Regions from separate parts of the Homo sapiens genome. Here region 1 is linked to region 2. Evidence: fine-mapped expression QTL. A gene starts in region 2. The other region holds a variant in brackets. All regions are shown on one strand. Distances are between the middles of the regions.

Evidence for each region. PIP is the estimated chance that this variant, and not a neighbour inherited with it, causes the effect.
Region 1: its variant is fine-mapped to the expression of RNF150 in subcutaneous fat (TwinsUK, PIP 0.95).

What each region holds. Positions count from the first base shown.
Region 1 is chr4:140,875,442-140,883,441 of GRCh38, forward strand. All of the region lies in intron 6 of RNF150 (ring finger protein 150), which reads right to left. Among named protein-coding and RNA genes, the nearest start is that of TBC1D9, 120 kb to the left of the region's middle. The variant T/C (reference allele first, on the strand shown) is at 4,883.
Region 2 is chr4:141,129,096-141,137,095 of GRCh38, forward strand. RNF150 (ring finger protein 150) reads right to left here and starts at 4,374. Exons shown (of 7, transcript NM_020724.2): 1 at 3,230-4,374. The coding sequence starts at 3,713. RefSeq lists a silencer at 4,193-4,312.

The DNA.
Region 1 (8,000 bases), 250 kb before region 2:
CCAGGATTACAGGGGTGAGCCACCATACCTGGCCCATAATCTGTTCTTGAGTTGAGATTCTTAACTTAAGGATTAGTGATTTGCAGGGTGGGGCTGGGGGATTAGGCATTTAAAATTACATACACACATTTATAGCTACATATAGGCCTTTTCCTGGTAGTTTTCATCAGATTCTCAAACTCACGAAAGGCTAAGAACCGTTCACTTAAATGATTTTGCATCCCTGGTGAGTTGGATAACACATTACAGTAAGCAACAGAATGGCTTGGTTTTGTTTGTGTTTTTTTTTAATGCATATTTTGGTTTACATTCCACTAGCTATGTGTTCTATTAACTTGACATGATAGTTTTCACATGAAGTCACTGCTTTCCTACTTAATTGTTTCTTTATGGTGGTTATTCAAAGCTAAAGCAGAAAACTATCCTTCCCTGAATGAGGTTTATTTACTCACTCTACTGCCTGTCTTATGAAAGAAGGCACAGACCAGTAGCAGGCTGGCATAAGTCCTCCTCTGTTAGGAATTAACAAACATTGCCCTCAGAATAAGTGCTCTCTGTTTTGAGAGAAAATAAGGTGGTGGTTAATATAATCCCCCAGGTGGCCTATTCTCCAGGAGGTCTGGTGTTTGCATGCTGGGAGTTGCTCTGCATTACACAAAAGCTTATTTTTCCTCATGTACTTGAAAAGTAAGGTTTCAAAGAAAAATGGCATCCTTCTGTCCACTGCTGCTGATGCTTATCTTCTTGAAAATAGGGCATAATTTCCAATCAACCCTGTATTGTACAAGAGCACTATAGGGAAGGCACTTTCAACCACATTGGTTGAATTATAATGTTGCTGTCTTTTCATCTCAGAATGTGAAACTCCCTTCAGGCTGGGGCAGTGTCTATATAGCCTGTCATTATGTTAGTGGGAAAGTTAATTAGACTTTAAATGCAGCGTGTTTGCAATAAGGAAATGTGTTCCTTTGAATTCTTTGCCTTAGCAAGAATTTCTAAGGAGATAAACTACTTCCCACTTGGTTTATGTTTTCCCATTTATGAGTGGCCTCTGATGTGAGAATGGCAAGGTCTCTGGACCGCTTTCCTCAGAGGGTATGCAATAGGGTGGATACTAATAGCTAGGATAGACTGGCTCCTTCCTACATGCCAGGCATTTTGCTATGCCATTAAATATATCACACGTCACCCTCACAATAATACCGCTATGATGGCTTCACATGTTATAGGTGAGGGTGAGCACATAGAAGATGGAAGAAGTGGGATCTCAACCCAAGTCAGTGAAATTGACAGTTGTACTATTCTGGAATGGCAGAGCTACTAGAGTTCTATTTGGCTGCTATGTTGCTCTTACAGACAAGACTCAGCCACATTTGGAAACCCAGCAGGCTTATGATACAAATTCATCCATTTGGCCAAGTGACTTCTAGAATTGTTCAGATATAACTGACAGTTTTGCCTTTTCAATTCCTGTTCCATAATTGCAAATATATACATCTTGCGGTCAAATTAGGAAAATTCTTTCTCACCTTTCAGATGGGGAAGTTTAAAACATTGTTTTCATTTGGATTTGGTGAAGGAGAATTCCCTGTATATTAAATTAGAAGCCTGTATATTAAATTAGATCACATAGTTAGGATTTCACTTTGCTTTTATCTCTTTGCTGTTGGTTTTCTTTCCCTGTGACACTTCATCTAGCAGGGGAAAGATTTTCTCCAACTGCTCAAATTCCTTACTGATTTCCTTGGCAGTTCATTCATTGAGTCATTCCTTGCTAAGTGCCAAAAGAAGAGGCAAAGTGATTTTTACATTAGTTTTACATTTGTTTTTGCAGGGAAGGAGACAAAATCTAGTGCACATTGTGTTGTCAACAGTTTTTTTTTACAATGCCCAATTAGTACCACCTATTGAGAACCTTAAACATTAAGCATAATATCTGGTAGATGAAAGACTTTTGATGAATGTAAATATGATTGGTATGAAAAAGGAGTGTAAAAGAGAAAGTTGCCAAATGGATTTAGAGAGATAGGCAGAGTTCATACATATTTATCCATTTCTGCAACCGTATAAAATTATCTATAGACCCCATTTATTCATTCAACAATTCACTTAATCTTTATTCAACAGATGTTTATTGAACATGTATTAGGTACACAGCACTGCTGATGAGCAGTGTGGAGAAAAGAAAGATGACCTAAATACAGGCTCTGACTTTAAGCTGAATTTGATCTACTAAAAGAGATCAGATTTGTATCCATAGAAATGTAATACAAGGTGACATATGCTAAAAGAGAGGTGTAAATAAAATGTTAAGGAAACAAAGGTGTGGGGAAAATATCACCTCTAAGTGGGTAACCAAGAGGATTCATGAAGTAGGTTACATGTAGGCTGGCAGTGAGGATCTAATTAGTATTGGGAAGTATGGAGGTAAGGGGAAATGGAATTCCTTCCAGAAGGGCCAGCATGACTATAGCAATCATCAAAGCAAATTTCAAGGCATGTGGATGGTTTGACTTGCCTGTGGCTTAGTGTATGAAGGATGTGGAATGGTTCAGACAGGTCACTGTGGCTCCTGAAGTGTTGGCTGTGGTTTCAATGAGATCAGAGGGAGAAAGATTCTCTATATCCCCATCAACACTTACTATTTTGTGTTTATTTTTAAATTTTATTTATTTATTTTTAATATTAGTCATCCTAACAGGTTAAGGTGATATCTCATTGTGTTTTTTTTTTTTTTTTTTTTTCAACAGAATCTTGTTTTATCACCCAGGCTGGAGTGCAGTGGCACAATCTTGGCTTACCTCACTCAACCTTTGCCTCCCAGGCTCAAGCAATTCTTGTGCCTCAGCCTCCTGAGTAGCTGGGATTACAGGTATGCACCACCATGCCCAGCTAATTTTTGTACTTGTAGTAGAGATGGGGTTTTACCATATCAGCCAGGCTGATCTCAACCTCCTGGTCTCAAGTTGATTCACCTGCCCTTGGCCTCCCAAAGTGCTGGGATTACAGGCGTAAACCACTGTGCCTGGCCTCATTGTGGTTTTGATTCACATTTCCCTGATGATCGGTGATGTTAAGTATCTTTTTTATGCTTGTTGGCCATTTGTACTTCTTCTTAGGAAAATTATCTATTCAAGTCCTTTGCCTATTTTTCAATAGGGTTATTTATTCTGTAATTTGAGTTGTAGGAGTTCTTTGTGTATCCTGGATATTAACACCTTATCAAATATATGGTTTGCAAATATTTTCTCTCATTCTGTAGCTTGTCTTTTCACTCTGTTGACTGTTTACTGTGCAGAAGATTTTAGTGTAATGTAGTCCAATTTGTCTATTTTTGTTTTTGTTGCCTGTGCATTTGGTGTCATTTCCAAGAAATCCTTACCAAATACAATGCCATGAAGCTTTCCCCCTCCTGTTTTCCTCTAGGAGTTTTACAGTTTCAGGTCTTAGATTTAGGTATTTAATTCAGTTTGAGTGATTTTTTTGTATGCTTACGCTCTAAGATAAGGGTCCAATTACTTTCTTTTGCAATGTGGACCTCCACTTTTCTCCACACCATTTTTTGACACTATCCTTCCACCACTATGTAGTCTTGGCTCACTGTTGAGGATTATTTGACCATATACATGAGGATCTCTATTCTGTTTTATTGGTCTACATGTCTGTCTTTATGCCAGTACCATATTGTTTTGATTACCATCACTCTGTAATATGTTTTGAAATTAGGAAGTGTGAGGCCTTCAATTTTGTTCTTCTTTCTCATGATTGTTTTGGCTATTTGGAGTAAATATGAGTTTTAGGACTGTTTTTCTGTTTCCACACAAAAAAAATGCCATTGGGATTTTGATAAAGATTCCATTGAATTTACAGATTGCTTTGGGTAGTATGGACATTTTAACAACATTGTCTTCCAATCCGTGAACATGTGATATCTTTCCATTTATTTATGTCTTAACTTTTTTAAGCAATGTTTTAAGTTTTCAGTGTACAAGTCTTTCACCTTGTTCATTAAGTTTATTCCTAAGTATTTTACTTTTTTGATGCTATCATAAATGGAACTGTTTTCTTAATTTCCTTTCATATTGTTACTGTTCAGAAATTCAACTAATCTTTTATGTTAATTTTGTACCCTGCACTTTGGGAGGCTGAGGCAGAAGGATCACTTGAGTCCAGGAGTTCAAGACCAGCCTGGGCAACATAGCAAGATCATGTCTCTACAGATGAAAAAAAACTAGCCTGGCATGGTGGCACATGTCTGTGGACCCAGCTATTTGGGAGGCTAAGCTGGCAGGATTACTTGAGCCCAGGTTGAGGCTCCAGTGAGCTGTGATTGTGCCATTGTACTCCATCCTGTGTGGCAGAGCAAAATCCTGTCTCAAAAAGAAAAAAAAAATTTGCACCTAGAAACTTTGACTTTGCTGAATAGTTTATTAGTTTTAAGAGCATTTGAAATGTGGAATCTTTAAAGTTTTCTACATATAAGATCATGTCATTTTGTGAACAGAGATAATTTTATTTCCTCCTTTCCAAATTGGATGCTTTTTATATATTTTTTTCTTTCCTAATTGCTCTGACTAGGACTTCCAGTACTGTGTTTAATAGAAGTGGTAAGAGTGAGCATTCTTGTCTTGTTCCTGATCTTGGAAGAAAGCTTTCAGTTTTTCACCATCTAGAATGATGTTAGCTATAGACTTTTCATACTTGACCTTTCTTATGTTGAGGGAATTCTTTTATTCCTAGTTTGTTGAATATTTTTATTATAAAAGCATGTTGAATTTTTTCAAATGCATTTTCTGCATCAGTTGAGATAATCATGTGATTTTCATTCTTTGTTCTGTTAATGTGGTGTATTACACTGACTGATTTTTTTTTGTATACTGAA[T/C]CATCCTTGCATTCCAGGGATAAATCCCACTTGGTCATGGTATATAATCTTTTAATGTACTGTTTAAATTGATTTCCTCATATTTTGTCAAAGATTTTTGCATCAATATTTATTGGTTATATTGGTCTGTAATTTTCTTTTCTTGTAGTATCTTTGTCTGGATTTGGTATTATGGTAATACAGGCCTCATAAAATAGTTTAGAAGTGTCCCCTCCTCTCCAGTCTTTTTTTTTTTTGGAAGAGTTTGAGAAGAACTGTCATAAATTCTTTTTTAAATGTTTGGGATAATTCTCCAGTAAAGCCATCTGGTCCTGGGTTTTTTTTTGTTTGTTTGTTTGTTTGTTTGTTTTAAACAAAAGGTCTTTTTATTACTGGTTCAATCACCTTACTAGTGATAGGTTGGTTGAAATTTCCTATTTCTTCATGATTCAGTCATAACAGATTGCATTTGTCTAGGAATTTCTACATTTATACATTTCTTCTAGGTTATTCACAGTAGTCTCATAATATTTTTTATTTCTTTGGCATTAGTTGTAATGTCTCCTCTTTAATGTCTAACTATTTATTCAAGTCTTCTCTTTATTTTAATTAGTCTAGCTAAGGATCTGTCAATTTGGTTGATCCTTTCAAAACACAAATTCTAAGTTTGGTTGCTTTATTCCATTGTCTTTCTATTCTCTATTTCATTTATATCTGCTCTAATCTTTATTATTCCCTTGAAATTCTGCTAATTTTGAATTTGGTTTGTTTTCTTTTCTCTAGTTCCTTGAGGTATAAAGTTTGGTTCTTTGAGATCTTTCTTTTTTAATGTAGTCATTTATTGATATAAACTTTCCTTTGTACTTTTTTTTTTTTTTAAGACAAGGTCTAGCTGTATGGCACAGGCTGGAATGCAGTGGCATGATCTTGGCTCACTGCAGCCTCCACCTCCTGGGCTCAAGCCATCCTCACACTTCAGCCTCTCAAGTAGCTGGGACTAGAGGCATACATTATCACATCTGGATAATTTTTGTATTTTTTTGTAGAAATGAGGTTTCACCATTTTGCCCAGGCTGGTCTCAAACTTGTGAGCTCAAGGGATCCATCTGCCTCAGCCTCCCAATCTGCTGGGATTACAAGCATGAGCCACCACACCTGGCCCCTTTGTACTTCTTTTGTTGCCTCCCATAAGTCTTGGTACATTACCTTTTTGTTTTCATTTGTCTCAAGACGTTTTCCAGTTTATCTTGTGATTTCTTCTTTGACCCACTGGTTATACAAGAGAGTGTTGGTTGGGCATGGGGGCTCATGCCTGTAAACTCAGTCCTTTGGGAGGCCAAGGTGGGAGGATTGCTTGAACCCAGGAGTTTGAGACCAGGCTGGGCAACATAATGAGACTATGTCTCTATGAAAAACCAAACAAAGCAAAAGAGCCAAGTGTAGTGACATGTACCTGCAGTCCCAGCTACTCAGGAGGTTGAGGTGGGAGGATATCATGAGCCCAGGAGTTTCAGGCTGCAGTGAGCTATGATCATGTCACTGCATTCTAGGCTGGGTGACAAAGCAAGACTCCATCTCTTTAAAAAAAGAGGATGTTGTTTAATTTCTACATTTTGATGAGCTTTCCAGTTTGCTATTGATTTCTGGTTTCATTTCACTGTGGTTGGAAAAGATATTTCGTATGATTTCAATCTTCTTAATTTTCTTTATTTTTAATTTTTTTATTTTTATTTTTGAGATGGAGTCTTGCTCTGTCGCCCAGGCTGGAGTGCAGTGGTGCAATCTCGGCTCACTGCAAGCTCCACCTCCCAGGTTCACGCCATTCTTCTGCCTCAGCCTCCTGAGTAGCTGGGACTACAGGCACCCGCCACTACGCCCGGCTAATTTTTTGTATTTTTAGTAGAGACGGGGTTTCACCATGTTAGCCAGGATGGTCTCGATCTGCTGACCTCGTGATCCACCCGCCTCGGCCTCCCAGAGTGCTGGGATTACAGGTGTGAGCCACTCAATCTTCTTAAATTTCTTAAGACTTGTTTTGTGGCCTAACATGTGATCTATCCTTGAGAATGTTTCATGTGCATTTGAGAAAAATGTGTATTCTGCTACTGTTGGGTGGAGTGTCCTGTATATGTCTGTTTGATCCAACTGATCTATAGTGTTGCTCTATTCTACTTATGCCTATTGTTCTCAGTCTGGTTTTCTATCTATTTTTGAAAATGGGGTATTGAAATCTCTTACTCTTATTGTGTTACTATTTTCCCTTTAAATTCTGTACATGTTTACTTCATATATTTGGGTGCTCTGTTAGGTAAATATATATTAATAATTGTTATATCTTTCTGAATAATTAACCTTTTAATCATTATATAATGACATTCTTTGTCTCTTGTGACAGTTGTTTACTTAGTCTAATTTTTTCTGATATGAGCACCTCTGTTCTCTCTGGTTACCATTTACATGGAACATCTTTTTTCATCTTTTCCCTTTAGCTCAGGTATGTCCTTAAATCTAAAGTGACTGCCTTGTAGACGGCATATAGTTACCTTTTGTTTTTCATTTATTTAGTCTTTTGATCTGAGAGTTTATTCACAGTTAAAGTAATTACTGATAGGGAAGTACTTATTATTTTCATTTTATCATTTTCTATGTTGTAGTTATCTCTCTTTTTCCCTCTCTTGCTGCCTTCTTGTTAGTTTTGTTCATTTTTTTTTGTAGTGCTATATACTTTGATTTGTTTCTCATTTATCTTTTGTGTACTTTTTTGAGTATTTTCTTTGTGGTTACTATAGAGATGACATAAAACATGTCAGAGTTATAATAATCTATTTTAAGCAGATAATGCCACATATAAAAACTCTACTCTTATATATTCCCTTCTACACTAAGTTACTGATGTTATAAATTATATCTTTAGTATATTTTACATCCATTAAAGTAGTTTTTTTCACCTTTGTCCTTTAAATTCTATACCAGAATTAAAAGTGATTTATGTACCACCATTACAGTATTTATGCACCACCCTATCACAGTATTGTGTATTTGTCTACATATTTACTTTTGCCACTGAGCTTCATGGTGCCGTAAGCTTTTGTGTTACTATCTAATGTTCTTTTGTTTCAACTTAAAGAACTCACTTTAG
Region 2 (8,000 bases):
TGACTCAGAAGTTCCACTCCTAGGTATATAATCAAGAGAAATGTCCATACAAAAACTTGTACATGAATGTTCATAGCACTATTTTTCATAACAATTAAAAGGTAGAAACAACGTAATTTTCCATCAGTTGATGAATAAATACACAAAATGTGATATATCCATACAACGAAATATTATTTGGCAATAAAAAGGGTTTAAGTACTGACGCATGCTACAACCTTGATGAACCTTAGAAAGATTATGCTAAATCAAAGAGGCCAATCACAGAAGTCCACATATTATATGATTCCATTTATATGAAAGGTACAAAAGAGGCATTTAAATACATGAAGACAGAATGTAGATTAGCCTAGGGCTGGGAGTTGGGGAATAATGGGGAGTGACTAGGAGTTGGGGAATATTGGGGAAGTACAAGAGTTTCTTATTAGAACTAGATAGTGATGATGGCTGCACAACTCAGTCAATACACTAAAAGCCATTGAAATGCATACTTTAAATGAGTGAACTGCAGAGTATGTTTATATTTCAGTAAAGCTGTTATACTGGGGAGGAAAGTGACTTGTTATAAAGCAAAACTACTGGTCTATCCCAGGAGAAGTGGTGTCTTTTTGAATGAGAAGTTATAGTTACATAAGTGGCAGAAAATCAAAATTATTTAAGCAGGAAAAGAAAAAAACAGAAAACGTATATGAAAAGGACAAAACAATTTCTATTTAATTGAATTTCAAGATACACAAATGCATAGATGTTAAACGACAGGTTGCATAACACTAAATACAGACCTTCTCACCTGAAATCTATCAGTTCCAAAAATAAAGCATCTAAGGAAAGGTGATAGATATATCATCAGCTTTTGCAGTTTTTAAAACTTTTTAAAAACTGAATTTAAAAGTTCACAAATATGCAGATTTTCTGGTATGGTATCCCAAGTTCACAAAATAAAAATATTTGATTAGCATCTAAAATGTGCAGTTTCTCAAACTGAATTCAGAAATCTGACCTCAAATTTAACTAGGAAAAGTAAAGCTTTCAAGATCTGGACTACATGGAAGACACTGACAGCCAGACAAGAGCTGGCAGTGTTTGAGATTTAGGCAGAAGAATTTCAGAGTATAGTCAAGGGTTTACCATGCTACCCTGTCATGTATCTGCTCATAATGACACTCTAGCAGAAATCAATGCTAGCCTCTGACTGAAGTGAACAGAGTCTCCTAATGTGGCAAAATGTCAGAAGATAATATGGAGTTTCCTGGCCATTGGCAGATACAGCATGAATACATTTTTGGAAACAGAACAATTAGATAATAGACAATTTCCAATTTTTTTTTTCCTTTAACGTTCAAACTACAGTATTACTAAACTTCCACTCCCACTATCTTAATCAAGCATCATTTGTGTGGGAAATCTGCTTAGTGTTTTCTTTAAAAATAAGCAAGCCATTAATTGATCCAATGTGTTGGCAGTTCTAGAGAACCTTTTTAGACAGGAACAAATGATGCCTCTTACTTTATGTTCAAAGAAGTTGAGTTCAAGATTTCATGCATATGCACAGAGAAACAAAGAATCTCACAAAGTCAGCTAACAATCTTCTTGGAGTTTAAAGAACAACAAAAACAAAAAAGCTTCCTTCACCCCTCCTCCACTGAGGTTTTAAATATTAAGTAACATGTTTATCTAAAGATGCTTTACATGACTTACAGTGCTTTCCATAGTCCTTAACATCCTTGAATATCAAAGTTTCAGTAGTGCTCTTAAGACTCAAGGTGAGAGCACAATCTTTTCCCTTAGAAAACTGTCGAGCTCAAGAAAATATATCGAATATTCTGAAAGTGCTGTATTGTAACTTTTCTAAGTAATTGCCTCTCCTCCTCTTCATTAATTAACACACTACATTTTTCTGGCCTGTGTTTTAGAAGTCTGGAACATTTCCCCTCCCCACCTGTTTGTGTTAAGGTTGACAAATTTCCCTGACTAAAACAGCTGGTGTTGATTACTGGAGGCAAACCAATTGAATATTTCACTAATAGGTGACATGAGCTCTCGGAATGGAAACTTGTCCCCAAAGAGAACACCCCTACAAATGTAGCCAGAGCTTGGTGTTCCATTTCAGCAGCGTAACTATTTATTCAAATTTGGTTTTTAAAGAAAATAATGCTTTTGATTAGGAGACTCCACTCAGAAAATGCATCTGTCATTTTCTCCCCTCCTTCCGGGCACTGGATGCCACAGTCTCGGCCCAGAAACCCCTTTGGGGAAGGAGGGCCCACTTCTCAGGCACACAAATACAAGCAGCAAGCTCTGACATAAGGAGGCTAGCTTGCTAAAACTAGTGGCTTATGGACTTATGTTAACAAGCCTGGGGATGGCTTTTTTGGGGGGAGGGTGTTCCTACCACCAGGGAAACATTGCTTATGTCAGGCATATGCGGTATTGAGTTTTGGGACAGTAATGCATTTCTAGTCCTGGTACCTGCGATCATTAACAAAAGCTTATTCTCTCTAGTCTGAAATCCCTTCATTCTAGCCAGAAAGAAAACCTTCAGCATATTTAACCTCCCAATCAGGCAAAGGATAATGCAATAATTAGAAAAGTAGTTATAACTTTAGGGCCATCACACTCTTCTTGGCTTGTTGAGGATTGTTATTATTTACCATCGTGGCCACCTGTCAGTTTCTCTGGATGACAGCCTGGCAGAGCATAGTACTTTTAATATGATTAATGAAGTGCGTAAACCCAAAAGGGGAAACTCTCCCAAGTGCAAGTTCGCGGTGGTGAGCTGCCAGCAGGTAACCCTACCCCTCTCCTGATATAGCGCCTGCATCAGGGTATACCTGATGCACAGACCCAAGGGCAGTGCTGTGGTATCAGATCTACTGGTTCCAAACAGGTGCTGGGCCGGTCACTAACCAAGAACAGTATCTGAGCCCTACCCTCCAAACCCCACCTTCCAGGTCCCCCTCGGAAAAGTTAGCCCGCCACGTTGAACCCCTGTCCAAGCGGCGCTATGCCAAGCTCTCCGGCAGCCTCTCCCCTACCCAATACAGTTAATCTTCTCCTCTTTGTAAACCCCCCAAGTGACGCGGAGCAAAACTTAATCGGTCCAGGGAACCCAGACACGTCTTCCGCGCCGCACGGACTTCCCAGAAGGAGCCTGGAGGCAGGCGCTGGATCCCTCTAGGCACCTCCGTCCCCGCCGGCTCCCCTCCCCCGCGCCCGCTGGGCCACTCACCCGCGTGGGGCATGGTGATGGTCTCGTTGGTGTTGGAGCCCACGTTGAAGATGACCACGGCTGAGGCGTTCTGCAGGAACGCGTTCCGGATCTTATCCCTGTACGTGCAGTTGCCCTTGGGGATGAGGGCTATCCAGTTCTTGCCGCGGGTCGGGGCGGCGAACTTGGTGTTGGGGTCGCAGGCCAGGCGGTCGTGGGCCGAGCTGGCCATGACCACCTCCCCGCGGGCGTCCTGCTTGGGCGAGTGCTCTCCGTAGCGCCCGCACTCCGTCTTCTCCGTGTGCAGCTCCGCGCCGCCGCCGCCCGCCGCCCCGGCCCCGGGGTCCGGCGCGGGCTCGGCGTAGGTGATGTTCACGAAGGCGGTGTACCATTCCTCCTTCTCGGCCACGGTAAAGTCCAGGCAGAGCAGATGCACGAAACAAAAGGAAAGCAGCCATGTTGAGAGAGCCAGACTGCAGCACGCTTGGATGAGAGACATTGCCATCTTTATCCGCCGGGGCCCCCTCCCCGCCCCCGCGCCCTCCCTCCGTCCCGTCCCTCCTCCCCAGCCCCGGCCAACCCCGGGCCGCTGCCTCTCCTCCTGCTGCTGCTCACTCCCGGGCCGGAGGGGCCGCGGCCGGGACGCGCAGCCGCCGCGGGGACCGGATTCCGGGCGAGCGGATGGCGCTGGCCCCTTCCCCTCTCAGCTGTAGCGCGGTGGTTGCATTTTGCTTCTTGGGCGCCCGGGGGGCGCGGGAACAGAGGGCCCGCGGGGCTTGCGGAGGAGTCCTGCTGCCGAGCGTCCTGCTCCTTCGCCCGGCTTCGCCTTCTCTCATAAGGGTGGCCGGGGGCCCACGAACTTGCAGGGTGGCGGCCCTGCGCCCTCCAGCCCCGGCGGGGACGGGCACGATTGCTCGTAGTCTGGGGTGCTGCGGTGCGGGGTGCTGCCCAGGGTGTCCCGGCCGCCGCCACTGAGCGCTGGGGCGCGCGAATCCAGCTGCAGCCGCTGCTGCCCTGCGCCGGTTCCCTCAGGCTGCGGGCGCTGCGCTCCTGATCTCGCCGGTGGCTGCGCCTGGGCACGCACTTGCCGCGGGCGGGGCGGGCTTGGGGACAGTGGGAGCGAGCAGGCAGAGCGGAGTAAGCGGTCCGTGTGTGTGTGTCTGTATGTTTGTGTGTGTGTGTGTGTGTGTGTATAATGTGTGCGTGCAAGGAGGAGCTTAGTGTGATGTCAAAGCCCCTGGGATTCTCTTGCCATGTTCCCTTGGTCTCTCTTTATGGGCAGCAGCGACCCCTGTCGGGTCTCAAATTCAACCTCAATCGGCGACTTAATCTAGGTGGAGGTAAAGAGGAAGCGACCCCTCGACCTTTGAGTACGGGAATAACTTCCTGAGCGTTACATTTAGCAAATGTATGTGCCTCTCGTAAACGACCCTCCCGTTTGCTGGAAGTACTGCCGTGAGCTCCCTGATTACCTGTCCTAAGGCCAAAGTGTAAGGTGGTTTGGTATTGAGGTCCTTCCAAAGCTACCTCTGGAATACCTAGGGCAGTGGCTATCAAATCTTTAGTTTTAAAACTCAGACCGATGGGTCCTGCCACAAAGTTTCTGGTTCAGTAGATCTGTGGTAGGGCCCCAAAAATATGCATTTCTAACAAGTTCCCAGGTGGTGCTGATGCTGCTGGTCTAACAACCATTCTGTTAAGATGGGTATAACAATGGGCTTCCTACTGCCCACCTGGAAGCAAACATCTAACATTCGTTTTCTTATAGAATAGGTGTTTTGTCACTCTGTAAGAAGAGAAACCGGGTGAGACATTTCTGGACTGTGTTTATTCTGATTGTCATGGCTGGGAACAGGGGACTCGCAGCACCAACAGGCAAGGGAGGTTTGTTTGGGTTATTGTTTATAGTGCGCTCTCCAACTGTGCATAGAGATTACAGTAGTCAGCAGACAGTACAGTCCCCCTAGTGTAGTGTTCTTAAAACTGTAGTACAGCAGAGTGCCTTACCAATTAGACGTTTTGGTGGTGGATATCCTTTCCCTTGGCTTGAGATGCCTGCCATATAGTCTCTAAAAATATTTGTTTGATGGTTCTCTATCATTTACATTGTGTTTCCCACCTGATGCTCTTTCAGAGAACCCAGGACCCATTCATGATTTAAATTTAAAAAATGAAAGGCTGCCTTTTCCCCAGGACTTTAGCATGTTTACAGCTCTTCGTTAATGAACGTCCACCAGTACAACTTCTCTTTTTCCGGCAGCAGTACAAACAGCTGATGGCTGTTAAGGGAGGGCAAAGAGCCTCAGCTGTACCCAAATTAGAAGCAGGCACAAGAAGAACTACTTAGAAGAATTTGTCTCTATGGCATTTGATGTGCTGAATTTGTATGTGTTCCTAGCTTATTCATTTTAGAAAATAGGCTTCTAGGCAATTGGGACAGTGCTTTTTATAGCGCTTACTGCCAAGGAGGCAAAAGTGGAGACACCTGGCTGCTGGTTCCTGAACCACCAGAGATCTGAGGGAGGAGTCCACTGCTAGAAACCCCCGGCTAGGTTCTGAGCAGTTGCCTTTAGCAACCCACAGTGTTTCCCCAGTCTTCTTTATCGCTTAGCATTTTTTTTCTCCAGCTGGAAGACTTGGAGAAGCTATGTTATTAAGAATGTGTGACTATCCCTTACCCCTTCTTTCCTTTGGAAAAGTTAGGTGCTAAAGAGATGACAGGGTCAAGGAAATAGCATGGCTGGAAGATTGCTTAATTACAGGGCCATTGGGCTAATAAGTAAAACACTGAGTAAAATAGGAGCGAGGTTTCTTACTGTTGGAGAAGGAATTTACAAATATGGAAAGAAAGAGAGCTGTAAATAACCTTGAGGCTTTAGGGTGGATTAACAATGAGTATGAAATAATTTTTCAAAAACTATATGTATATATATTTATGTGTGTGCACACATATATACCATAGCTCTCTCCATTCAGAGGCCAAAAGCAAAAGGCACATCCAGTGGCCAGAAGATCTTCGTTTCTAAATAGCATCCTCCACGAAAAGCAAGCTGGCTGATTATAGGGCTGACACTGGGAAAGTACAGAGTGAGCCCATAACCTCTTGAAAGGAAATGCTCCAAGCATGATGGGAGTATGTCAAAAAGACAGAAGAGCCAGCTGGAAAGGGCTCCCACTGGCCAAATCTGGGACAGTCTGAACATAAAATAAATGATCCTAGTAACTGATTACAACCTATCTAATAAGGCATGAATCCGTGCTAATGTTAATACAGAAAAATGATGGAGTAAATAAATAGGGAGGAACAGCTCTTCCTTATGGTAGAAATACCTACTGATAAGGATTAATGGATATAGAAAGTCACCATTTGACAAGAGTGTTGTTTGATTTAGGCAGGAGTCATCAATGGATACTAAGGCTGATGAGTAGGTGTTTGATGTGAAGCAGGATATTAGCCTAGTCTTGAAGTATCTTCTGAAAAATACTTATTAATTCAATAAATGGTGAATTTATTGAAGAGGAACCTGGAAGACACCAAGTTGAGCAGGTGATCATGGTGAACATCACCATTTGTAGAATGAGTCCTATCATGTACCTCCTTATGAAATGCACTGGAATTACAGTGTCATTTCTGTCATGTTCCTGAAAAGAACAATACACGGCATGGTCTAGACATAAGGAAACAATGGATAAACCCAGGATGAGAGGCAACCTTCAAAATGAAAAGTTTATATTCTTTAAAACTCTTAAACTTATGAGAGACAGAGAAAAACAGAAGAACTGATCCAAATTGAAGAGATTTAAGAGATGTGACAATTACGTACAATAAATATCCCAGATTGGCTCCTAGACCAGAAAGGAAAAATAAACACTTGGCAAAAATTCAGTGAAATTGGTAGATTGGATGGTATATTTTATCAATGGTGAATTCCTGACTTGGATATTTATATTGTAGTTTTGTAGAAGAATGTCTGTGGTTGGGGGGCTATGTACATTGAAGAATTTAGCAGTGATGAGACATTCTTTCTGCAACTTACTCTTAAATGGTTCAGAAAAAAAAATGATTATCTATGACATATTGGTTTCCACTAGCTACACTTTCAGAGAATTTGAGCCCAATTCATGATATTTTTAATAAGTCAAAAGTTCAGTTTTTGAGGGGACATTAATATGTTTCCAGCTTTGTGCTAATGATTTTCTGGCAACCCTGCTACTCTTTTTTCCAGTGGCACTTCTTGAACAACTGACAAGTGGTATTTGGGGAGAGCAATGAGCGCTTGCTATACCACCCCCCAAATATATAATACTGTTGTAGATAAAAACATCTCTGTATTTCATTTCTTCATCCAACAATAATTATCGAGCACCTGTTAACGCATTGGTGTTACAGGCACTGGGCATCCAACTGAAACAAAACAGATAAGATTCTTGCTCTCATGGAGTTTATATTCTGGAGTTGGAAAAAAACAGAAATTTCTAAAAAGCTTTAGATTATGTCAGATAATGACATCTGCTATGAAGAAAAAGGCAACAGAGTATGGAAGGGTAACCTATGTCACATAAGGTATTTTCTGTCAGGGTCAGCTGCTTTGTGAGGTGACTTTTGAACAGAATATTGAAAGAAATAAGGATTCTATGTGGCTATTTGGGGGACTGGTTTTACCAGGAAAAGTACAAGTACAATCTGAGTATAAGTACAATCTGAGGCAAGTACATGAGTACAAGTGTATGAGTACAAGTACAATCTGAGGCAAGATTGTATTTGATATGCAGAAAAACAGCAAAGAAACCA